7 linked regions of the Homo sapiens genome follow. The protein of the gene in region 7 purifies or fractionates together with the protein of the main gene of each other region. This does not show direct contact. Each region holds a gene or a part of one and is shown on either strand. Other genes may lie near its edges. The genes, in order: LEMD2, ABCB10, RHBDD1, PDZD8, HERC3, SLC25A51 and KCNC4.

What was found.
Region 1: the proteins of KCNC4 (region 7) and LEMD2 purify together in Homo sapiens (affinity purification with mass spectrometry; one large-scale study listed by BioGRID and IntAct). This does not show direct contact.
Region 2: the proteins of KCNC4 (region 7) and ABCB10 purify together in Homo sapiens (affinity purification with mass spectrometry; 2 studies listed by BioGRID and IntAct, with this or other methods). This does not show direct contact.
Region 3: the proteins of KCNC4 (region 7) and RHBDD1 purify together in Homo sapiens (affinity purification with mass spectrometry; 2 studies listed by BioGRID and IntAct, with this or other methods). This does not show direct contact.
Region 4: the proteins of KCNC4 (region 7) and PDZD8 purify together in Homo sapiens (affinity purification with mass spectrometry; 2 studies listed by BioGRID and IntAct, with this or other methods). This does not show direct contact.
Region 5: the proteins of KCNC4 (region 7) and HERC3 purify together in Homo sapiens (affinity purification with mass spectrometry; 2 studies listed by BioGRID and IntAct, with this or other methods). This does not show direct contact.
Region 6: the proteins of KCNC4 (region 7) and SLC25A51 purify together in Homo sapiens (affinity purification with mass spectrometry; 2 studies listed by BioGRID and IntAct, with this or other methods). This does not show direct contact.

What each region holds. Positions count from the first base shown.
Region 1 is NC_000006.12:33,786,331-33,790,275, forward strand, and holds the start of LEMD2 (LEM domain-containing protein 2), read right to left. Parts: upstream 2,801-3,945; 5' UTR 2,787-2,800; coding exon 2,051-2,786; intron 613-2,050; exon of another isoform or gene 445-612; coding exon 404-444; intron 1-403. UniProt on the Homo sapiens protein: Nuclear lamina-associated inner nuclear membrane protein that is involved in nuclear structure organization, maintenance of nuclear envelope (NE) integrity and NE reformation after mitosis.
Region 2 is NC_000001.11:229,552,208-229,555,707, forward strand, and holds part of ABCB10 (ATP-binding cassette sub-family B member 10, mitochondrial), read right to left. Parts: intron 1-3,500.
Region 3 is NC_000002.12:226,996,382-226,999,710, forward strand, and holds the end of RHBDD1 (rhomboid-related protein 4), read left to right. Parts: 3' UTR 1-2,829; downstream 2,830-3,329. UniProt on the Homo sapiens protein: Intramembrane-cleaving serine protease that cleaves single transmembrane or multi-pass membrane proteins in the hydrophobic plane of the membrane, luminal loops and juxtamembrane regions.
Region 4 is NC_000010.11:117,288,441-117,291,940, reverse strand, and holds part of PDZD8 (PDZ domain-containing protein 8), read left to right. Parts: intron 1-1,592; coding exon 1,593-1,755; intron 1,756-3,500. UniProt on the Homo sapiens protein: Molecular tethering protein that connects endoplasmic reticulum and mitochondria membranes. PDZD8-dependent endoplasmic reticulum-mitochondria membrane tethering is essential for endoplasmic reticulum-mitochondria Ca(2+) transfer.
Region 5 is NC_000004.12:88,598,980-88,602,479, reverse strand, and holds part of HERC3 (probable E3 ubiquitin-protein ligase HERC3), read right to left. Parts: intron 1-3,500. UniProt on the Homo sapiens protein: E3 ubiquitin-protein ligase which accepts ubiquitin from an E2 ubiquitin-conjugating enzyme in the form of a thioester and then directly transfers the ubiquitin to targeted substrates.
Region 6 is NC_000009.12:37,894,128-37,897,627, forward strand, and holds part of SLC25A51 (mitochondrial nicotinamide adenine dinucleotide transporter SLC25A51), read right to left. Parts: intron 1-3,500. UniProt on the Homo sapiens protein: Mitochondrial membrane carrier protein that mediates the import of NAD(+) into mitochondria. Mitochondrial NAD(+) is required for glycolysis and mitochondrial respiration.
Region 7 is NC_000001.11:110,227,314-110,230,813, reverse strand, and holds part of KCNC4 (voltage-gated potassium channel KCNC4), read right to left. Parts: intron 2,282-3,500; coding exon of another isoform or gene 2,115-2,281; exon of another isoform or gene 2,016-2,114; intron 1-2,015. UniProt on the Homo sapiens protein: Voltage-gated potassium channel that opens in response to the voltage difference across the membrane, forming a potassium-selective channel through which potassium ions pass in accordance with their electrochemical gradient.

The sequences.
Region 1 (3,945 bases), on a different chromosome or scaffold from region 7:
CACCACTGGAGACAGAGAATGTGGAATTGAGAACTTGGCCTCCTGATGCTTAGAAACGCCGGCCCTTCCTCCCAGTGCCAGGGAGCTTGAGGGTCCTTCAACAACAACCTACTGCATCCCCCTAGATTGACTCAGGCAGATCAAAGTCCCCGATGCTACATTTGATGGGAAAGTGTCCATAACAAGCCCAGGGTTGGATTTTGGGAGGTCAATTCTATTTCAAGTATTCCTTCACTGCCACAATTGAGCCTGACAAGAACATCACAGAACACAATGTGACTCTGGTACATTACAGGAAGCACTCCCTGAAAATGATCCTATTCTTTTTCTGGGGAAGTTTACCTCCTGATGGAGGCTAATATCCTCAGGAAGAATAATAAAAACCAGAGAAACTCAAACTCACCTCATCTGTTTTTCTCTCACAGTCCACTGGCAATAACTTCACTGAGACCAAGAAAAGAAACACAGAGGAAATTAAGTGTGGGTTGAGAAAGGAATACAAAAAGAGACTACTCACAACATTTGGAGGGAGTAAAGCATTACCAAGCCAAGGGTGGGGATTAGAAAGATGTCATCTAAGGAAGGCACTTTTAAAATGCAGACAGCAAAATGTAAGGGTATCCAAATCCTGGATTAGGAATTACGATAGCTGGGTCCTTGTCCCAGCTGAAAATGATTAGCTCAAGTTTCTTGGGCAACTCAACCACTCTGAACCTCTGTCTCCTCGTCTGTAAAACGGGATCAAATGGGCCTTCCCTGCTTAACTCAGGGAGTTAGGCCCAAACAAAACAAAATATAGGAGTTTTGTAAACAATGATATGTTAAACAGAGATTAACACCGTAATGGGAGGGGAAGTCCAGGTAAATACCAGCATACATTCTAGCGCTGTTGTCTTAAAGCATCTCAGCAGTGAGTACCAGTGTGATACTGTTTGACATCACCAGTGTAGTTATAGTACCATGACACTCCCAGGTCTCCTTAATTTCTCTAGCAGGTCGACAAACTATTCACATAGTTGATAAATGCTCTCATAGTGGGGAAATCATTTGGGTGTTTGCACACGAGTCTGTTAATACCCTTGCCCACAGACTTGTACACTCCCAAACATCCATCTGCCACACCAGCTAAGACATACTTTAGCTTTTTCCTGTATTTTGGCAGTTCCTGCTAGGCATGAAAGGATGTGGCCTTGGCTGGAAGCTGGGAACAGTATTAGTCACATTCGTGCTTTGTAAAGAGTATTAAAAGTTGGTGAACTACAGTGGCCCTTTATACCTAAATGTATAATGAAATGATCTCTATGTTTCCTTTCAGAAAACACACAATCCTCAGCTATTCCGGATACATACTGTATCCTGCAGACCTCTCATTGGCATATCTAACCATGTAACTTAAATGTGGCCAGAAGGATGGCTGTGAGCATCCTTGAGTCGTAGTCTCTCTCTTAACACACTCCATGAGGGTGCTACAAGCAATGATAAGGGCCTCCAGTTGCGATCAGTTTAACCTGTCTGGCAAGCAAGGCTGGTAGATTCTCCTGTTGACAAAGCGGCGGCCCTGTGATTCAAAGAAGTGGAGAGTGGACTTTTTGGTGCTACAAAGGTGGGACCCCCAACCAGATCCTATCTGTGGGCCACTGAAATCTGGAGTGCCTTCAAACAGGCACTAAATGTGTAAGCCAGAGGTCAAAAGGGAAGAACCCAAACGGATGGGGTGAATCTGTTAGAGGGGGGTGTGGCTTCCTCTCCAGGGAGAAAACCAGAGGTTGGAGGAGCAGTGACTACAGCTTGTGATTGAAAGGGAGACGTTAGAAGGGAGGGCTGGGGCAGAAAAGGAGAACAGGAGAAAGTGAAGGCAGAAATTATTGCAGATGCAGGAGCCTTGGCCCTCTCTTCCCACAGCTGGAAGAAGGCAGGCCTGGAAATGAGAAGACAGTCAGAGGCAGCTGACAAGGCCGGAAGTGCGCGGCCTGGCGCCGACAGGAACGGGGGGTCCTCCGGCGGACACACGCGCGCCCAGGGCCCTCCCCTGCGCCGGCCCAGGACGTACTGTTGTCCTCCGCCTCCTGCGGCGCTGAGGGCTTGCCCATCTTCACCCAAAGGATGCCCAGGAAGACGAGCAGTAGCCCTAGGCTGGCCCAGAGCAGAAGCCGAGAGAGCCAGCGCTCCAGCCGGCGCCCCACCTCAGGCCGGGCCCTCGCCGCGCCAGCAGGGCCCGCTCGAGTCGCCCGCAGGCCCGGGCGCGGGTCGGGACCGAGGAGGGAGGAAGGCAGCCGCGCCGGGGCGGGAGACGCTGCCCACCAGCGGCGGGCCGCGAGACCCGGGCCCTGCGTGGCCCTGTCGGGCGTCCGGGCGTCCTCGTCCTCCTCGGAGCTGCCCCGGACCGAGGCGCGGCGCCTGAGTTGCGCCGGGCGGGCAGGATAGGCGAGGCCGCGGCTCCCTACCCAGGAAGCCGCGGAGGGCCGGATATCACCGTAGGCCCCAGGGGTCGCGTAGGCCGAGCCCGAGGCCGGCTGGGAGAGCCAGGGCTCCGCCCGCGGAGAGGCCGCGGCGGGCCGGGCGCGCAGCGGCGCATCCTCGCGTAACCGGGCCTCTTCCCGTAACCGCTCCTCGCCCCGCGGCCGGGCCTCCTCCCGCAGCCGCTCCTCGTCGCGCAGCCGGGCCTCGCCCCGCAGGCGGCGCAGCTTGTTGCGGTAGACATCCCGGGTGGTGTCGGTGATGGGTCCTGGCTGGAAGCCCAGGGCCTGCAGCTCCCGCCGCAGTTCCAGGTCCGACAGGCCGGCCATGGCCAGGACGCCGCCCCCCGCCCGCCCCTGGCGCGCACCGCACCCGGAACTGCTCCCTCCCGCAGGCGCGGCGGAGCGGGCGGGGCCACGCGCCATGATGGGAAGGTCGGTCGCCATGTTGGGAAGGTCTGCACTTGGCCTTTGGTCGGCCATGATGAGGCGGTCTGACGTGGCTCTTAGAGCCGCCATGGTGGGAAGGTCCAAGGGGGATTAAATTTTTTGTTTTGTTTTGTTTTGTTTTGTTTTTCTCTCTCTCTCCGCTCTCCCACTTCCCTTTGTTTGTTAGATCAAGCGGTATTAATCTCTGAGTCCTCCAACCCTAGCTCTGCCTCTGGCAGGTGGTAAGCGTTCAGTAAAGTCAGCGTTGATTTAATAGATGAATTGCTTAATGGTGAACGAAGCCACTGCCACGAATGGAGAGACAGGATGATTTGCCTCTCTGGGCTTGGGGACTGATGTGTGATCCGGTTTTATTTGGGTCTTAGAGTACACTCCAGGCATGCTCCAAGACCCTGTCCCGACTTCGGGCTTGTTAACTGGGCGACACTGAGCACCAAGTAGGTGCGATCCCTGCCTTAGGACAGACACTGGCCCCCAAGGAGCGCCAGCCTGGAGGAGACGCAGCATCCATGGTGGAGGCAGAGGAGCAAAATGCCCTTGGGTTCGAATGGGCAGTTGAGGCTTCTCTGCGGAGGGCCTGTGTCTGCGTAATGGGATTTTTACAAGGAGACATGGGAGAGAGAAGACTCCAGAGATACACGGTCTTGCAGCCTCACTGGTGGTTTAGGTTGTGGGCTTTGGAGCCAGACAGTTCGATTTCAAATCCCTACTCACAACTATTAGATGTGTGATCATATTCAATTAACATTGTTAGCCTATTTGCCAGTAAACCTCAATAGAGTTGCTGTGAGGATTAGAAGAGGTAGTTTGGCTAAGGTGCTTGGGACAGTGCCTGGCACACGTTCATGCGTGTTTATACTTAACCCACATCTTTGCAGTGTCAGTGCTGTGTAGAGCCTCCCACAGGGCAGGTGATTTGGTTACATGAAGGCTCTTAGCAGGAAACCCCTAAGGGAAGCAAGGGAATGTGGCAACTGGAAATAGAACCAGTTTATAATCTTCCTTCCACATCCCTCAACTCCCATTCCCAAACATTTAT
Region 2 (3,500 bases), about 120 Mb from region 7:
TTTTGGCTTTTAGTTAACTGGATTCTTGTTAATCAAGATCTGACTACATATCACTGTCTTCTGATATTAATGAATACTTTAGACTTGCTCCATAAACATCATTTCAGATTCCACCACAAGCCCTGGACACAACTGAGCATACTGCAATTCTGAAATTCTCCCACACCTTTTCTCCATAGTTAAGTCTCTTGCTTGCCCCCACCCTTGCCTGATGCGGCCCCAGCAACTTCTCCCATTATCTATTTCTTGACAGATACCTTCAAGTATCTTTGTTACCTCATTCTACTGAATTGCAGCAAAGATGGAAACAAATATCCTTCAAAAGAAAGGGGAAGGAAAATCTGAATTGCAGATTGCTGGACAACAGCGCTGGATAGAAGAGGTTGGGGGTGGTTGGAGGAAGCTGTACACTGTGCCTACCACCTGCCCACTGCTGAACAGGGCACCCATCTGGTTATATCAGGCAGGTACAGCAATCCCCACTGTCATTCAAGGACTCAAAGGCAGCACTTCAGAGTCCTCACCATTATCTGAAGGATCTGGCATCCATCATCTTAAATCCTCCCTTTCACCCTCATCTTATCCTCGTTTTTCAGAGAGGAATCTCGAACACAGAGAGAGGGAGCCTACGCAAGGTCTCCCAATTTACACATCACAGAACCACATTCTGCGACAAAGCCTGTCTTTGGCATCTTCCCACATCCCAAGCAGAGGAAGAGGAAGCACAGGCCTCACCTTGGAATCAGGGAAGGGAGCAGAAAGCCTGGCAGGATGGAGCAGGGGCAGAGACCTCATGGGTGCACAGGAAGGAGAACTGAGAAATGAAATGAAGCCTCTAGATTATAGAACAGAAGGATTTTGTGGCAAGGTCGGCCTAAAAGGGCTTTACACTGGGGAATGATCCAGCCAGATTTGCTTTTTTTTTTTGAGATAGAGTTTCCCTCTTGTTGCCCAGTGCAATGGCGCAATCTCAGCTCACTGCAACCTCCACCTCCCAGGTTCAAGCGATTCTCCCGCCTCAGCCTCCCGAGTGGCTGGGATTACAGGCATGCGCCACTATGCCTGGCTAATTTTGTATTTTTAGTAGAGATGAGGTTTCTCCATGTTGGTCAGGCTGGTCTTGAACTGCCGACCTCAGGTGATCCGCCCGCCTCAGCCTCCCAAAGTACTGGGATTACAGGCGTGAGCCACCGCACCCAGCCAGATTTGCATTTTTAAATGATCCACTCTGGCTACAGAGCGAAAGGAGCAGCGGACAGAGCACTGTTCTAGTGCCCTAGGTGAGAAGCAAACTTAGGGCGAAGTAGGCTGGGGACAGAGGGATAAAGGGCAGAGTATAGGACTACAGATATTTTTAAGAACTAGGACGTGATGACTGGTTGGATGTGAGCATTTTTCCTCTCTGAAAAATGAGGATAAGATGAGGGTTAAAGGGAGGATTTAGGATGAGGAATGCCTAACCTAGGAGGGCCGTTTTGAGGTTGAGTTGGTCAGCATTGGGTCGGAACCCTGACGAACTCAACCTCAGAACCGGCCCTCCTAGGTTAGGCATTCGTTATCTTAAGTTCTCCTTTTAAGCTCTGCCATCTAGCTGTTTGACCTTGCATAAGTCACTCCATCTCTCTGTGCCCAGTTTCCTCATTTGTAAAATGGCAATAGAAACAATCCCTCCCTCACAGAATTATGAGTAAACTACACACATATTCAAAGCATCTGGTACAATGCCCAGGGCTGAGTACACAAGAAATATTAACTATTATCTTTATTACTACCATTATAAGAACAACCCATGTCTCTGGCCAAGGCCAAGAGGTTCGCACTGCAGTCTCTCTCACTGAACCAAGAGACAGAAGAGGAAAGATGCTTTGCGGAGAAAGGTAACTTTGGTTTTTAGACATGTTTGGTTTGCTGGAGTCTGGGACACATTTCCACGGATGCAGGTGGGTGTGATGGAGAACACAGGAGTTGAGGGTGTGGGGGAGATGGAGGCTGAGTGAAGAGACTCGGCATCTGCGCTGGGTAGAGAATGAGTGAGGACATGAGCGGCTGACAGATGAGAAGGGAGTAGAGGAAGAAGCCAGGGACTCCAGGTTCTGGAAATCTGGAGAAGAAAGATCTGAGCCCCCATGTGTCTGGTGCAAGATCAGACTGTCTCTGTCCATGCTATTAGCATGCTCTAGAGTTAGGAGTATCCCAAAGACAAAATTAAAATAAAACAGTTAGGGGTACCTGTCCCATGAACCACAGGAGGGTTCGCCATGGACTCTAACAGACATACGATGGGAGCCACCTAGGTAATTTAAACTTCTCTAGTTGCCACATTATAAAAAGGAATACGTAAAATTAATTTTAATAACATTTTACTTGACCCAATATATCCAAAATATTATCCACACATGATCAACATAAAAAATTAGTAAGATATTTTACATTTTTTCTCTACTGTCCTTCTGGAATCTGATGTGACAGCACAGCTACAGAATGCTCAGTTTCGCTGAAACAATGTATTTCTGTAGCACACGCACATCCCTGGCTTTCGGGGGCAGTTCCGATTTCAAAGGTTCATCCATCCCAGCCCCCACAGGGCACTGTCCCTGCGGGATCTCCATCCTCACTGGGCTTCAGGAAGTAGCTACTCTGGCCTCCTTGCCCACCATACCCACTGCTTTTGTCACTATATTCACTGTGGTCACTCACGGCCCATCTTCATAAAATGCAACTACAAACTCAGCAAAAGCTGCCAGCAGGCTTCAGGTTCTCAGAGCAGTCCTGCCCTCAAACCACACACCAGCCCCTTATCAGTAACTGCAGTGAGAGGAGCCCTCCTGAGTCCTCCACACAGGCACCAACTGAACATGCCCCAGCGGAGGGGATACATGTGTGCAGTCCACAGTTTAATGAAGGCATGCTGCCCACCCCGCCGAAGCCCCCCACACAAAAAACCTCCAGGAGGCAGCTTTGCCCTAATCTCACAGTACTGTAGGGGCCCACATTTGCTCCTAAAACCCTGCCCCTAACTCACTCAGGTCAGAGCCTCATCTATCTGCCAGGCACAGCCAGACGGTTCTGATGAAGTGTCGCTTATCCCATCAATCCACACCCTGCTCCTCCTCAAGCACCTGCATCTTTTAAGAGTCCTTCTGGCCAAAGTGATACGATGGAGAATTATCAGTGAAAAGGGACCTTACATCTGTATGAAGACAGCTGCGAATTCCTCCCCAAAGGGGCGGCTTAGGCCTTCCTTTAGAAGAGGAATGTAACACAGTTATGCTAAAGCTGCTTTCAGCACACGTCTGTACATATTTCATGGTAGACTGTGTTTTTAAAGTTTCTGATGCAATCAAAGTTTTCTGTTCACACAGTTTAGGAGGCATACCCAGCAAAATGCTGAGACAGATGGAGGTATTATTATTAAAATATAAAGCTGCATTTTTGAAAAAAGATTTTTGTATTTTTCTAAAAATTAACAAATTAACATTGGAATTCCTTTTCAGCTCAGC
Region 3 (3,329 bases), on a different chromosome or scaffold from region 7:
ATTGGCCATTGTACCAGCCACTTGTCCTAGCCAAATGTCCAAAACACGCCCTTGGGCCCCGCCACGTTACAATCCACAGATTGTCTGTCTGAGTCGTTTAAGGCATTTCCTGGTGCTTGTGTTCCATGAATAAAAGGACAAAGTCAGAAGATCACTGATGTCTTACTGTCAACAGAGATATTTTAAAAGAGAGAAGCAGGAAAAGATCTTCCTTTTTTGATCTACAACTTATATAGTTTTCTGATTATGCACATAATAGATATGCCTTCCAGATGCATAAGGCAAACATCTGGAAAGAAATATACCCAAATCTTAGCAGGGGTTATCTTTGGGAGTGGAGTACATGGGATTTTGCTTTCTTCATTTTTATAATTTTATATTACTGTCTTGGAAGATGTGTTTATGTGTGTGTGTTACTTTTACAATCAGGAAAACATATTTAATAACATATAGTCAAGAAAACAGACTTAAAAATAAATACTATGTGTCCATTGAGAAAATTCACAATATAAACAGAAATACAAATAAATACATACACAATTTTAAAGTCACCTGTAGCCCTACCCTTAGAGGTACCCAGGGTTAACATTTTGGTGGTATTGTCTTATCAATTTTTCCGTTGATACATTCAGCAAATTTGGAGCACATTGACCATGGAGTTTTGTGTCCAAATCCAATCTGAATTTACCTGGAAGAGGCCTTGACACCTGCATGGAAATGAGCTAAGAAAACCACTGGAGCCTTGGGAGCTCTTTGGCCTCCTGGCTGGCCCAGTAATATCTGAGCTCCTTTGGTTAATTTATAACTGATATAAAACTACATCTTCTTTATAATATAAATTGTACCTGTGAGTCTAGAAGCTTTAAATGTGTTTAAATTAAAATATTCAAGCTAAATGTTACTGCTCTCTCCCAAATTCTGTAAGTTTGACTCCCGTTACCCCAATTAGAAGTAACTTCTTTGTTTCATGCCACTTTTATAGCATTTGGTAATTCTGCTATAACACATCTTGCCCCTATTATTAACTGTGCACAGCTACACAAAGGTGTGCCTTCTACGTGGGAACATGGATTGTGAATGACTCTGTAATGAGGCCTGAGTCTTAGTTATCTTTCCACTCACTCCCCGTCTCCCCTTTCCAACCCCAAAGGCTCACGATAGGGGCTCACTAAATGTCAGTGTTTCACCAAAGTATTTTTTCCATTGTATTAAGAGTCCAGTCACTGTATATGGAAGTATTTTATTTTTTATTTTTTTATATCACTTGAGTCCACTAGTAGTACTTCCTTGCTCTGTTTGACTTGTCAGATACAAAGACACGGGATTAGATTTTGGGTGGTAAAATTGTGATACGCATGGCTGTTGATGGAGTGGAACATCTTAGTGATGTGAGAAAGGTCATTTTAGTTATAAATGTAAACCAATTACTTTAGCACAACAATAAAGATGTTCTGGAAATTATTATAATTATTTTAGTTAATGGACTTGCCTGTAACAAGTGCTTATGTTTGGAATGTCCATTTTATTTTATTTTCCTCTACAATAAGGAATCCCTAAAGTTATGCCAACAAACTGGAATTGGATTGAGAAAGACAAAAGCAAGTGAGCAAGTGTATTAGACTAATTATCTCTAGTAGGGAATAAGCACTTAGAGCTAATTTTTTAATTTGGTTTATTTATTAGTAGCTCCCTGATTGTCTGTTAAGCCCCTGGTTCCCACAGTTTGGTGTGGTCAGTCAACTTAAGCGACCTTTTAATGCAGAATCTTTACTTGGTTCTGAAGAGGAGGCAGTAGTTAAAATTGCTTCCTCTTAATGACTCTGAATGTATTGCCTGTGATTCCAAAGTTGTACATAATTGTTCAGACCTCCTCCATCCTTTTAAATTGCCTGCTGCAGTAAATAACTAGTTTGAGTAGAACTAGATCCTGTCTATCTATTTGGCACATGTTCTGCTGCCTGGGGAGTAAGCAAGCTAAAGGGATGAGAAAGACCACCTCCCCCTACCCTGGAAATTGCACTGCAAGGCAGGGCGAGAATGGGGTAGCTGGCAGACCTGGCCTCCTTGTTCCCAGTCTTAGTTTTTCTTGAGAGATTCAGTATTCAGTAAAGAATAGCATTCAATTAGTCAAAAAATATATATATAACTTCTTCCTTTCCCTTCCCATGAATCATTGCAGTCATTCCCTAAGTTTCTTCTCTTTTTTTTTCATGGCTGCTAGTATTTTATTTTAGAATCACAGACTCTCAGCTTAGAGAGTCACAGTATCTCAATTATTTGCTCTGTTCAATACTTAACAATACCTCCTCACTCAATTCTACATAACTCCAGCTTAGTCTTCCAAAATTCACTTTCATGATGCCACTCAGCATCTCAAATACCTTTCATTGGCTCTCTGCTGCCAAAGGATAAAGGTCAAAGTCATTAGCCTCAACAGTGGGCTTCAACCAGCCTTTGGACCTCAGCCCCATTTATCCATCACAGAGGCTGGTAACTAGTCTCACTGCTCAGGCTGTGAGTGTTCCTGATCTTGTGACATTCTGTGCTGTGCTTTTACATGGAACAGCTCTTTCCTCTCTCTTGGCCCATTCAGATCCTCCTCATCCAGCCCCCATCTGAATCCTGTAACAGACACAACCACATCTACACAGTTTCCACATACCACTTGGAATTGCTGGTTATGCTGCAATGAGAGAATGTCTTTGTCTTTAAATTGTAAGCTTCATGAGGGCAGGGACCATCTGTTTCTCTGTCTCTCCTCACAGTGCCTTGAGCAGTACGTTGTCTGGAATGTCAGAACCAATAAATACTTGTGGATTGAAACAAAAAGAGAAGCTCATTTATACTGTCACCAGTGGCGCACATAAACACTAGTGCCTGGTGCTTATTGATATCATTGTAGGTCTTTTTTTTTTCCCTTGAATCAATCACATCAAGGAAAGAATGATGGAAAGCATTTGCTGGTAGAAATAGAGACTTCAGGGCCTTTGTCAGCCTGAAGACATGTCCCACTGCATCGAATGCTGTGACCTGGTACACAAAGCTCAAGATTCCCACACGACCAAGAAGTGTCACCAAGGAGTCCCTGTGAGTAGTACCGAATCTTGCCATGTGCTTTTTACAGGTCTGCGTTGGATGTGTTTGTGCTAACATTTTTTCCTTCTGTGGTATTTAGGGGCAGAGAGAGAATGATCTTAACATCTCGATCAGATGATAGATGAATTGGCAGATTTAGATATGTGATTTATACTTTAGAAAAACTAAAATGTTGCTAATATAATAGAAATCATTAAATTTGGTCATAATAGGTATTGCTGCTTGGGAAGAGA
Region 4 (3,500 bases), on a different chromosome or scaffold from region 7:
CTGATTTGTAATTGAGCGCCATAAACACTAATTGAATCCTTGTCAACAGCTGGGATGTAGCACTCTGCCTGTTTTTTTTTTTTAAATCAGTTGTTTGAATGAGGACACATAGCATGATGATGTTGTTGTTAATTCACAGATGATGTTAATCTAGTATCCACATTCCTGAAAATTGGATGGCAGGTTTATTTAGAAAACAAAATGATCTTGATGGGTTAGAATAGGACATCTCATTAACAATGTAACTTTTTTTTTTTAAATAAAGATGGGGTCTCACCATGTTGCCCAGGTTGGTCTTGAACTCCTGGGCTCAAATGGTCCTCCCACCTCAGCCCTCCTTAGTAGCTGCGATTACAGGTGTGCACCACCATCCCCATCATCCCCACCACATGATAACTCTTTTTTTTTTTCTGAGGTGGAGTCTCGCTTTGTTGCCCGGGCTGGAGTGCAGTGGTGTGATCTCAGCTCACTTCAACCTCTGCCTCCCGGGTTCATGCCATTCTCCTGCCTCAGGCTCCCGAGTAGCTGGGACTACAGGCACTGCCACCACGCCTGGCTAATTTTTTGTATTTTTAGTAGAGACGGGGTTTCACCGTGTTAGCCAGGATTGTCTTAATCTCCTGACCTCCTGATCCGCCCACCTCGGCCTCCCAAGTGCTGGGATTACAGGCGTGAACCACTGTGCCCGGCCGATAACTCTTAATAAAGTATAAATGTAAACTCTTTTCCTTTGCCTATTCCCAAAAAAGAAACTTGAAGAATACACTGGCCGGGTGGGATGGCTCACGCCTTTAATCCTAGCACTTTGGGAGGCTGAGGTGGGCGGATCACTTGAGCCCAGAAGTTTGAGACCAGCCTGGGCAACAGTGGTGAAACCCGATCTCTACACAAAAAAATACAAAAACTTGCCAGGCGTAGTGGTGCACGCCTGTAGTCCCAGCTGCTTGGGAGGCTGAGGTGAGAGAATCACTTGCGCCTGGGAGGTGGAGGTTGCAGTGAGCCAGGATTGTGCCACTGCATTCCAGCCTAGGTGACAGAGTGAGACCCTGTCTCAAAAAAAAAAAAAAAAAAAAAAAGGATACACCATACAAAATGGAGTTTCCAAAGCACATATTATGAATGACATAGATCATTTTCATTATATTTGAAAAAAGCAAGATTCAGAATTATATTCATGATTATAATTGTATTGACTACTATGTCTCAGTATTATTGAGACAAATCTCAATTTTGTGTTAAATATATATTAGAAAATATATAGAATAGTTCTAGATTGTATAATTAGGAATGGTTTTCTTTTTATTTTGCCTTTCTGTTTATTTCCCAATTTTCTACAATGAGCATGGAGCAAGGAGTAATAATAAAACACATTGAAGATAAAGTGTTTAATTTTTTTGATGATTTAAATGTGTAGCCTAAGGATAGTTAATTTATATTGTTACAGTAAAGATTTTCTCCTTCCTTTATTTGCCATGATAGAAAAGTCAGCATCAGCCATGGTGCTCTCTGCACATAACAGTCTGTTACTGTTTTTTTCCTCTATTACTAGGAATCCATTGAATCAGTTTTCATTTTTTTCCCCTTTATCAAAGGTTGAATTAATAAAAGGAAATTTACAAAGTGTTGGACTTACACTTCGTCTTGTCCAGTCAACTGATGGGTATGCTGGGCACGTCATCATTGAAACTGTGGCTCCAAACTCGCCTGCTGCAATTGCAGATCTTCAGCGGGGAGATCGACTTATCGCCATTGGAGGTAATTATGCTAATATGCATTATACTTTACCTTTACAGATAAACTACAAAGTAGGTGTGAGGTTTTTCCTTTCTTCCTTTTTCCTTATTTCTATAATATGCATATGTCACTTTTATAATGGAAATAAAGTAATAAACTTTATTATAAATAAAAATTCAAAGGAGGCCTTCAAAATACATTTAAAACATACATGCCATTTTAGTTCTAGTGTATAAATCTTTAAAATACTTTGTTTAGACCACTTTTATATAACCACTCTAATCCTTCCCTTCCCACCTTCTACTACTCTATTTATTTTTTCTTGAATGTGAAAGTAAGGGCAAATAAACAGGTTATCTTTCTGTACGACTACCACCATTGCTACTCTGAACCTAAAATTGGTAGTATTAGCACTACTGCCCCCATCACTTAGCACTAGATGATGAGCAGAAGAACCAACATTCCTTTTCCAGGAGGGCACATCTGAACTGTCCTGTGATCCTGTGTCATCTAAATGGCCAGCCATTTGTTAGTATGTTGTTGCTCAGAATTCAGCCCAAATCACTGGTGGAAAAATGTGTCACTTACATGCCTTCCTATCACTTGGATTGTTAACAGTAAAAACTCTCTGAAGATAGCAGGTTATTTGCTTGTATATAAATGTCTAAGCAGTAGGACTCACTGTGCACAGCAGTGAGGGGAAAGTCCAAGCCTTTTCAACCTTTGTAGTACCTGTCCCATCTATTCTAGGCTTGTTGAGAGATTTCTTGAACATATGGTTGGTCACAGTTGATCTGAAAAGGGCAATGTGATATTTTCTTTCACAGCTTAGACAATAAATAAGTTAGAACAGTTCCCAAATCAAGGTGCAGTTGTCCTTGGTTACATGTCAAAGAAACTCTGCCTTTGATTCAAATCCACCTTGACAATAAAATAATGAAAATTATTTAGTTGCATATCTGGGAGCCCAATTAAGTCAATATTTTCACATGGGAATCTCTGATCATGGCATAAGCAGTGCTTCTCAGACTTTCCCATGTATGCCAGTCACCCAGACCTGATGTTAAAATGTGCATTCTGAATCAGGAGACCTGTAGTGAGGCCCAAGATTCTTCATTTCTCACAGACTCCTCCCAAATGATGATGCTTATGCATAAACACTTAGGGAGGCATAAAATAGACATCATTCATTATATTAATATCATTTAATATTTTGGTTTTAGCTACAGGATAAAATTAATTTTTTCGGTCTTTTTTGGGGGTTGTGTTTCAATTACACAAGTAGTAAATACCTATTATCAAAAATAAATTAATTAACCTAAGCGATATAAATGTATACAGAGTGAAAAAGCAAAAGTCATCCCTTGACATCTAACATTTGTTAATTACAATAACAACAGGCCGGGCTCAGTGGCTCATGCCTGTAATCCCAGCACTTTGGGAGGCCGAGGCGGGTGGATCACCTGAGGTCAGGAGTTCGAGACCAGCCTGGCCAACATGGTGAAACCCATCTCTACTGAAAATATGAAAATTAGCTGGGCATGGTGGCAGGCGCCTGTAATCCCAGCTACTCAGGAGGCTGAGGCAGGAGAATTGCTTGAACCTGGGAGGCAGAGGTTGCAGTGAGCTGAGATCATACCATTGCACTCCAGCCTGGGCAACAAGAGCGAAACTCCATCTCAAATAATAATAATAATATGTATTAAGATGAAGGGCAGATACAATACACATTCATTGTTTTAAAAAAAAGAAAAACCTTGGAACAT
Region 5 (3,500 bases), on a different chromosome or scaffold from region 7:
GCAGAAGATTGGTCTTAAGGACATTCAGATTACATTTCAGTTTCCAAACATACTTTTTTTTTTTTTTTTTTTTTTTTGGAGACCAAGTCTCGCTCTGTCTCCCAGGCTGGAGTGCAGTGGCGCAATCTCAGCTCACTGCAACCTACGCCTCACAGGTTCAAGTAATTCTCCTGCCTCAGTCTCTCAAGTAGCTGGGATTACAGGCGTGTGCCACCACACCCCACTATTTTTTTGGTATTTTAGTAGAGACAGGGTTTCGCCATGTTGGGCAGGCTGGTCTTGAACTCCTGACCTCAAGTAATTAGCCCGCCTTGGCCTCCCAAAGTGCTTGGATCACAGGTGTGAGCCACGGAGCCCAGCCGGTTTCCAAATATACATTTTAATTATAATTCTGAATATCCTTTTCTTTTTTTTTTTTTTTTTTGAGACGGAGTCTCGCTCTGTCGCCCAGGCTGGAGTGCAGTGGCGGGATCTCGGCTCACTGCAAGCTCCGCCTCCCGGGTTCACGCCATTCTCCTGCCTCAGCCTCCCAAGTAGCTGGGACTACAGGCGCCCGCCACTACGCCCGGCTAATTTTTTGTATTTTTAGTAGAGACGGGGTTTCACCGTTTTAGCCGGGATGGTCTCGATCTCCTGACCTCGTGATCCGCCCGCCTCGGCCTCCCAAAGTGCTGGGATTACAGGCGTAAGCCACCGCGCCCGGCCCCTGAATATCCTTTTCTAATCATACTTCTTAAACATGCTAGTCTCTCCATATTAAGAATCACTGTTCTAGGTCCTACAGGTCAAAATATCAGGATTTCAAGACAAGATTGCAGACTTCAAAGGTGTCTTCCCTAATCTTTTCATTGGTACATTCATTTCATCCTAATGAAAAGAGGATGGATTCTAACAGAAATGGTGAAGACTTACTTTGAATTATAATACTAGGCGAACACATCAAAGCTGAATATATCAGCCAATCTACAGGAGAGAACTGTCAACATATGAAGGAGACAGCTAATTGGCTCTTCTATGCAAAGTCAGCTTTTAAAATGACAAACTCTTTTCTCCCAAGATAAAAGCATGCCCAAATGGCTACAAATTAAAGATTACAACACAGAGGAAGCTCGTACTTTCAACCTCTCTTGACAACAATTACAGTACTTTGGATTTAACTCAATGGCCTTAATTGGTATATACCAATTTTAAAACTGCCTTATTGTAATCCTGAGGTATGCTTTGAACTCTTGAGGCTTTCAGGAAAGGCATGAAAAGGCCCAAAATAAAATATAAAACTGAATCTCAATTTGCTGTCTTACACAGAAAGTTCTGCTTCTTCCCAAGATTTTTATTCCTTGTCTAGACTCTACACTAAAAAAGTATTAAGATTAAATGTTATTCTTTGAATTAACTACAAATATTGTGGAGAGGGAAGTAGAAATAAAATGAAAAACTGGCAGGGTAGTGGTGGTGGTGGTTGGTGGTCTAATGATACACTAATAGACCAGCAAGCTCACATAATCTAGAAATAATTTATTTTTCCCAACTTGCTCAATTGCTATTATCCACATTAATGGATTTTTTCGTTTTTAGTATTTCATAAATTTGTCTTATCTCTCCTACCTTCTAGTGTTCTTAGGTGCAAGAAGGTTGTGATGTGCCTTACAGAGAAAAAAATGTGTATTAGGTAAGTTTCTTTCATGCATGAGTTATAGTGTTGGCTGTGAGTTCAATGTTAATGAATCAACAAGCGGGTACATCCAAAATATGGAACAGGAAATCTGCTGATCTGTATGTGAGGCCTCCCCTGGAGAGAGCTAAAGTAATATCCAGAGTACATAATGAAGCTATAGATACAATGGAAAAGCAATTAAATCTGTGGATTCATGAGATGACAACCCATAAAAAATAAAAATCACAGTGGATAGCACTGATGTGAGGCTGAAAGCCAAAAACACTGTCACATTACACAGGGTCAAGAAAATGTTAAACCCTTCTCAACTAGTGTTTTATTACCAAGAAATATTGTGTATATTAGTAAGAAATATATATTAAATAGGCTGTCTAGACAGAAACACACATAAAAAAAGGTTATGCGTCAGCTGGCTGATAAAAATCTCTTGACCACAGCCTACAAGAACCTAATCCTGTATTTCCTCAGAAACAATGGCTCTGTATTCACTAATATGGTATTCACCATGACTTTACAGAACCTAACTATATACAGAGTATAACAAGTCCCTTCTTTGTTTACTTAAGCTTATTTATTTATGCTTGTTTGAATCAGGTTTCTTTCACTTGCAATAAAAAGAAACTCCTGACTGATAATATTAATAATGACATTATTAATAATAACAGCAGATAAGACCTGATTTGAGCTTACTCTGAGTCTGGTACTTTTCTATGTGCTTCACAGATGTTGGCTCATTTCATCTTCTATGAGACAGGTACTGCCATTATCTCTAATTTACAGATGAAGAAAGTGAAACTAACAAAAAAAAGATGAAGTAAAGGAAAAGAAAGAGACACTATGCTGTGCTGTATAGTAAGGAGCTTAGAAAGTAGATAACCAAAAGGCCAGACTTCCCAATGTGTCTGCACCACTCTCCAGAGAAAACAGGGACCCTGATCAGTCAACCTGGCTATCTGACCCGCTAAGTAATTCTTTCCTAAAAGTGGATGGGTGGATCAGATTCCATAACAGTTGTCACTAAATTCACCCAACCAATTGCCTTGCTTAGCAAGCAACCTTAAATAACTTGGTTTCTAGGGCAGATTCTACTACAGGGATAGAATACTGTGACCAGGTAACCAAAGCATCTCAGTCTTATTAGGATTTCTAATTCTCATTATTAATTTGGCGTCCTGGGTCTATCAGCTTTTTTTGTAGTTTATCTGGCACGAGTCAGTCCTTGAGAGTCATCTGAGTTCTGGGTGCTTTGGCCAAGCACAATCCTGTGTAAACAGCCTGAAGTATGGCCTCATCCCTGACTGACTAGTAAAAACAATTTATGAAAAAAGATAATAAAAAGGACTATTGTTCAAGAAAACTTCAAAAATTCTTCCAACTGAGTTACAGTAATGGAATCTTCAATTGGTCAAATAAAAACTGCCCACCAAGAGAATTAAATAGCAACCACAAAAAAGATGTGTATCTGTAAATAAACTATCAATCCTAACTATAAATACGGCCTAGGTCATCACAATGCTCTGCCGGAACTAAAGAAAAAAGCAACTAAAATCATCTAGCTTTCAGGAGAGAAGTTCAACACATTGGAGAGAAGCCAGCCATTAGCACAGCTTTCACTTCAAAGTACACTCCAGTTGGACCCCTAAATCTTGTAGCTGCTGATGTCCATGACTTTAAAGGTCTAGTTTCAGCAACGGTCTGCATCGCTGGGCATTTTGATCTCCAAGGTCCTTACACCCATTTTTCCTCATTCACTCTCTTGCTTGCTCCTAGAAGAGCAGAATCTTTTATTTTCCTTCAAAATACACAATTATGAAATTCGCTGCAA
Region 6 (3,500 bases), on a different chromosome or scaffold from region 7:
TTTATTCTACCTCCTATTTATGGTTGCTGTTTTTTTTTATGGTTTTGTATTATTAAGGTTTGGAAAACTCTGTGGACAATTCAGCTTGCCAAGTGTGTGAGTGGGTATACAAAAGATATACATTTTTAATTCCAAGACCTTCCAGAGAGTGTCTAGAGGAAAGGTCTAATTAAACCTGCCCCCACTCACCTTTTTTTTTAACTTTTTTTTTTTTTTTGAGGCAGAGTCTTGCTTTGTTGCCCAGGCTGGAATGCAGTGGTGCGATCTCGGCTCACTGCAACCTCCACCTCCTGGGTTCAACTGATTCTCCTGCCTCAGCCTCCCGAGTAGCTGGGATTACAGGTGCCCGCCACCATGCCTGGCTAATTTTTCTATTTTTGTAGAGATGGGTTATCAACTTGTTGGCCAGGCTGGTCTTGAACTCCTGGGCTCAAGTGATCTGTCCGCCTTGGCCTCCCAAAGTGCAGGGATTACAGGTATGAGCCACTGGCCTGGCCTTTTACAAAAAATTTTAAGTTCTGAGGTACGTGTGCAGGTTTGTTATGTAAACTTGTGCCATGGGGTTTGTTGTACAGATTATTTCGCCACCCAGGTATTAAGCCTAGTACCCATTAGTTATCTTTCCTGATCCTCTCCCTCCTCCCACCCTCCACCCTCCTATGGGCCCCAGTGTGTGTTGTTCCTCTCTATGTGTCCATGAGTTCACATCATTTAGCTTCCACTTGTAAGTGAGAACATGTGGTATTTGGTTTTCTGTTCCTGAGTTAGTATGCTAAGAATAATGGCTTCCAGCTCCATCCATGTTCCAGCAAAGGGCACAATCTTGCTCTTTTTATGCCTGCATAGTATTCCATGGTGTATGTGTACCACGTCTTCTTTATCCCGTGTACTACTGATGGGCATTTAGGTTGATTCCATGTCTTTGCTACTGTGAATAGTGCTGCAGTGAACATGGCTGTGCATGTGTCCTTATAGTAGAACTATTCCTTTGGGTATTGTTTTTTTCTATTTCGCCTTTAAACAATGCAGCAATGGGCAACCTTGTACTTATACCATGTGAATTGTTTTGCCATTAAAAACTTTTTTTTTTTTGAGACAAGGTCTCATTCTGTTGCCCAGGCTACGATGCAGTGGCACAGTCATGGTTTACTGTAACCTCGAACTCCTAGGTTCAAATGACCCTCCTGCCTCAGCCTCCTGAGTAGCTGGAACTACAGGTATCCACCACCACATTCGGCTTTTTTTTTTTTTTTGTAGAGAAGGGGTCTTGTTATGTTAGCCAGGCTGGTCTCCAACCCCTAGCCTCAAGCGATCCTAATGCCTCAGCTTCCCAAAGTGCTGGGATTGTAAGGAGTGAGCCACCTTGCCTGCCATTTAAAATTTTTGAATATGATTCCCCATCTTTCATTTCTATTGACCACTTCTTTACTATACATTTTCATATATGTTGCCCATTTTTCTGCTGGCACTTTGGTTGTCTTACTGATTTGTAAAGTATCTTTTAGATATGAAGCAAATGAATCTATTTTAGTCAAATTGTGGCAAATAATTTTTCCATGTCTATATCATTTTTATACACTGAAGTTCTTAATTTGAATATTAAATATATCTCAACTTCTAGATTTCATGTTCTCCTAAGGTCTTCATTACTCCAAAATTATTAACAAGTAATCCAGGCTTCCTTCCACAACTTTTTTTTTTTTTTTGAGAGAGTCTCACTCTATCATCTAGGATAGAGCGCAGAGGCATGATCTCGGCTCACTGCAACCTCTGCCTTCCTGGTTCAAGTGATTCTCCTGCCTCAGCCTCCCAAGTAGCTGGGATGATAGGTGTGTGCTGCCATGCCCTGCTAATTTTTATATTTTTAGTAAAGACAAGGTTTTGCCACATTGGCCAGGCTGGTCTCAAACTCCTGGCCTCAAGTGACCTGCCTGCCTCGGCTTCCCAAAGTGCTCGGATTACAGGCCCTTCCATAATTTTTATGGTGAATTATCACGTATACTGTAATATCTCTGGAATATCAGTTTAAGAAGTGAGGCAAAGATAACAGACTGCCAACATCACTGATGACTGAACTTTGTTTCCATCAGTTGCAGCATAATCTAAATACCCACGGGCGTTTGCGTTTATTTCTGCACTCCATTCTTTTCCACAAAGAGCCTGGTATTTCTTCTCTAGTACTAACCTGTTTTAACCTATTGCAGCATCAAAATATAGTTCATCATCTAGTAGGGCTTCCCCCTCCAAAGATAATTATTACAGTTTTTCTAGCCCTCTCACTTTTCTCAGGTAAACTTCGGTGTACTCTTCCCCAAAATCCTGTTGGTGTTTTATGGTGGAAGATGTATCCACAGAATGAGGCATATATATTTAAAATAGGCTGGGTGGCCGGGCACAGTGGCTCACGCCGGTAGTCCCAGTATTTTGGGAGGCCGAGGTGGGTGGATCACTTGAAGTCAGGAGTTCGAGACCAGTCTGGCCAACATGGCGAAACTCCATCTCCACTAAAAATACAAAAATTAGCCAGGCGTGGTGGTGTGCACCTGTTGTCCCACCTACTCTGAAGGCTGAGGCAGGAGAATCACTTGAACCCAGGAGGCGGAGGTTGCAGTGAGCCGAGATTGCACCACTGCACTCCAGCCTGGGTGACAAGTGCGAAGCTCTGTCTCAATAAATAAATATTTAAGGTTCAGAACGGTATTAACTTTGAATTTTTAGTGGTATTTAGATGGAAAGAGTGAAAATTAAAGAGCATATGTATGTCCGGTACCTATGTCAGGGGAGATAAGACGTGCAAATTAATTAGACTATAGGGAGATAAGTGCAATCATAGAAGGTATCAAGGCCCCGTACAGCAGGAGGTCATTAACTAGCTGTCCAGAGGGAATGACAGACAGGACATGACAAGTCTATCTTAATTTTAAATACTGATCATCTTTTCAAAATTGAATCTTAACTTTACAAGAACTTGGTATCTTCCTATTTACTTATAACTTTTTGCAAACCTTAAAGCATTAAAATTTTCTTCACATAGATATTATTTCTTACATCTATGTATTTCACCTTTTTGGTTACTATTATATTTTAAATTTTTAAATTTTTTTTCTTTTTGAGATGGGGTTTCACTATGTTGCCCAGCCTGGTCTTCAACTTCTGGGCTCAAGTGATCCTCCTGCCTCAGCCTCCCAAAGTGCTGAGATTACAGACATGAGCCACTTTGCCCTGCCTGATTATTATTATTCATAGGCTATTTACTTCCATCAGTTTTCTAACTAGTTTTCGTTTGCATAAGAAAACAACTAACAATTCTTGGGTATTAAGGTTAGAACCAGCTAACTTACTGAATTCTTACTATGTCTCAGTTTTTTGGTGAACGTTTTAGTTTCCACCATGTAAAAGATCACTTGCAAAAAATTTTGCCTTCTCTTTTATAATATGTGTAATTCTTTCTTCTTATTGAACTGATAAATACTTCCTGAACAAAATTAAATTATAATAAA
Region 7 (3,500 bases):
CCCTGGGCAGGCCCAGAGGTGCTGAGAGGTTGTAAGGGCAGACAGTCTACTCAGCCCTCCTGCTATCTGGGTTCTATCTCTCCCAGATGAAGCCAGAGAGCCAGGAGGGATGTGTGGGAGCCAGCTCCCCGAGGCATTAGGGCTCCAGCCTGGCAATGCTGCATCTTGTCGCCCAGGGACATCTGTGCCCACCGTAGGGGTGCCATGAGCCAGACCCAGCCCTGTGGGAGGGAAGAGAGGGAAGGAGGCGGTGGGTGCCGTGGAAACTTGGGCTCCTGACAACTTGAGGGCTGCCACAGAAATAGCGGCCTCGGTTCCCTGAACCAGAAAGGCAAGTCAGAGGAGAAAACAGTGGTGGCATCCCTGTGAACCTGCACACCCGGCTCGTTGTGTCCCTGTCAGAGCCCAGGCCCTCCATGCCAGGGAGTCCTCTCGCTGTTGGGGGAGGGGCCCTCGCATCTCCATCCTGTTCCACAGGCTTCCCCATCCCTGTCACTTCAAGGGCCTGCTCCCTCCTGAAGGGCAGTTGCATGGAGGCCCCCACATCCCCTCTTCTCACTTCTTATGGGTCAGGTCACTTCATTCTGAGAGCAAGTGGGAGGCAGGCCCCACAAACCACTGCAGGGTGGGGGTATCCCAGTGCCCACTCTGAACAGACCTTTCCAGAAGGACATTTCTGTGTCTGCCCAAGACTGAGGGAGGTGCCGAGATGGGGACACTCCGGGCACAGGCTTTACACAACACCCCCAACCCCATGCAATAATTTGCTCTGCCCAGTCCGCCTTTTGGGGAGCCTCAGATTTCCCAGCCTCTGCCCAGCCCCGACGCTGCCCTGCCATCCTATCTTTGCTGACCATGGAAGGAGCAGATCTGGACCTTACTTAGTCATTCTCTCCGCAAAATTGCATAATCTGACTCTAAAAATTGCCAGGCGCACGGCTCTGCTGTCAGGTCTAATTCCCATCAGGTGAAAGAGGAAACGTCTTGGCTGAGGCAACCTTGTTCCTCAGGCTGTGGAGGGCCCCCTTCCCGGGAGCGGCAGGAGCAGGTGGGGGCAAGATGGCTTCTGTCCCCACACTTCCCCTCAGCTGCCCCTGCGCAAGGTGTACCCCTGCTCACCCAGTGACTCACAAACCTGTTGTGCTCCTGGGCTCGTTAGGTAAATGAATACACTTAATTATAGAAATTAGATGAGTCTCCGGTTCTGGCAGGAATACAGAGCGCAGAGGCTGGGTGGGAATGGCAGGTGACTCAGAGGCAGGGCTGGGAGTTTGAGGGAGAGGGAGAGGGAAGAAGAACTGTCGCAGAAGCAGAGGAAGCAGCGTGGAGAGCGATGCTGCAGCTCGGGGCGCAGAAGGGACACCAGGTGCCGCCAGTGGGAGTCACCACTGAATCTGGGCAGAGGCTTCCTGAGGGAAGGGCCTCCCTCGCCTAGGCAGCCCGCCCACGGCCTGCACCAAGCCTGAAGCTACAACGCTAGGGACCCCTACCTGCGCCCCAAGCCAGGGATAGAAAACATCAGGCCTCTTCTCCCAGGGCAGCACTGCCCATAGGCACTGCTCTTCCAAGGAGTCAAACCACCTTTACACCAGCAGAGATGCCCGACATAACAGCCTTGTTCCTTGCTGGTCTGGGTGTGGGGTGGACAGACAGACAGACAGACAGGCTGTTCGGCTACTGGTTAAAGGCTATGAGGAATGGAAATACATTCACAGTGATTAAAGATATTAACATAGGCGTGGCTCCCCAACAAGGCTGACTGGCCCCAGGCGCTCTGTGCACACATAAACGCCTGGTGGCTGAGACTGGCCCTGGTGGGACCCCGAGAGGAAGGCAAGGCCGAAAGACAGGTCCGGGGTGTGCACCTACAGCCCAGGAAGAGGCCAATATGGGGAGAAGCTCTGGGATTGCTTTCCCCTTTGCTCTCCGGTTCCAGAGCTGAACCTTTTGGGAAGCTTGGAGCTATGGAGGGCAGGCTCGGGGGCCTAAGTTCTCCTCTGTCCTGACTGCTCCCCCCTGCTCCCTCCTGCTGCCCGCGTGGGCCCTGGGGAGTGAGCGCTGAGGGCATGGAAGGGTGCCTGTTTGTGCGCGTGTGCCCAGAGGGGAAGGTGCAGCTAAGGGGCAGAGTGACCAGGGGGTGGGCCGGTGAGGGGGTGGAAGGGGGTGAGCAGGAACTTTTTCAGAGGGTAGGGCAAGCTGTAACGCGATGCCAGTGGAGACAGCCCCAGGCTGGTTCCAGCTGCTCCAACTATGTTGTTTAGACTCCGGGACTTTCCACAGCCTTGGTGAAGAAAAGGCACATGGGTCAGTGGGCGCAGCTCCACAGGGTCCACGCTCCAGGAGACACTGCAGGGCGGGTGGCCCTGGGCTGGTGTGGAGGGGCCTGGCCCTCCTTGACTCTCCCTGGCCTCAGGTCTCCTGGGCTCCTGAGGACAGACTCCAGGGCCCCACACCCAGCTGACTTTTGTCCTGTCCTGCCCCCAGGTAAGCTTCCCACCAGCTCCTTGATAGCCCAGCTAGACAAAGACCCCACAGCCTCCAGCATCAGCCTTCTTGACTCTAAGAAGCCCTAATTAGCACCTGCCACCATCCTCCCAGGGAACTGACACTCTGATACATGGGCCTGTGTGGAGGAGGCCCAGACCCACTCACTCCTGGTCTTAAGCATAACCTGAGTGTGGAGAAGTGCGGCACGGTACGGCGTGGAGAAAGTTGCCGAGTGTGCATTGGGAGTTTGGCAATGTTAACTGCCACGCTTGCTTAGCAGGGCCTGTTTCCCAGCAACCCACCTGTTCCCTCTCGAAGGTCACTCTAATTGGCTGAGCTACATGCCTGTTGCCAAGAAGCAGTGTGGAGGCATCTTGAAAACAGAGCAGACAGGCCCCACAGGCACCCCAGGGATACTGGATGGTGAGATGCTGGCTCTCCTGCCCCGTGCACGTGCCGGTGAAACTCCTTCCCCAGGTGCAGTCCACTCCCAGTACCTCGTGGTCCCTCCTGACTGGTACCCTCACGGCCTCTTCCACACCTATTTCCACTGAGCCCCTCACAGCCCAGGGAGGAAAGCAGGGATGCGTGGCACTCAGCTCTGTGTGCTCGAGTCCTACACAGGGACCACTCGTTCTAGACTGTCTGCTTAGCACGGTCCAGCCAGAGCAAGGCTTTGGGCCTGAACAAGGACACAGTGGAAGCCACTGCCTGTTTGGGATGGTCGGCGGGAGAGAAGGCCAAATCCAGGCCCAAGGATAGGACACGGGGGTGAACAAAGGAACACAGGCGAGGGTAGAGGTCTGAGCACCCTCCATCTGCTGCCTTTTGCTGGGGTTGCTGGACCACTTCCTTCTAGGCACCAGATCACTATTCCCATTTCTGCCAGTCCACAGAACACATGCCCAACAAAGCTGGACACACACCTTTCAGGGGCTGGTTAGGCTCAGGGTGGCCTGGGGCTTCCATGGGGAGAGTGGTACTGAAAGGTCTGGGAAAGAAACTAGAAGGTG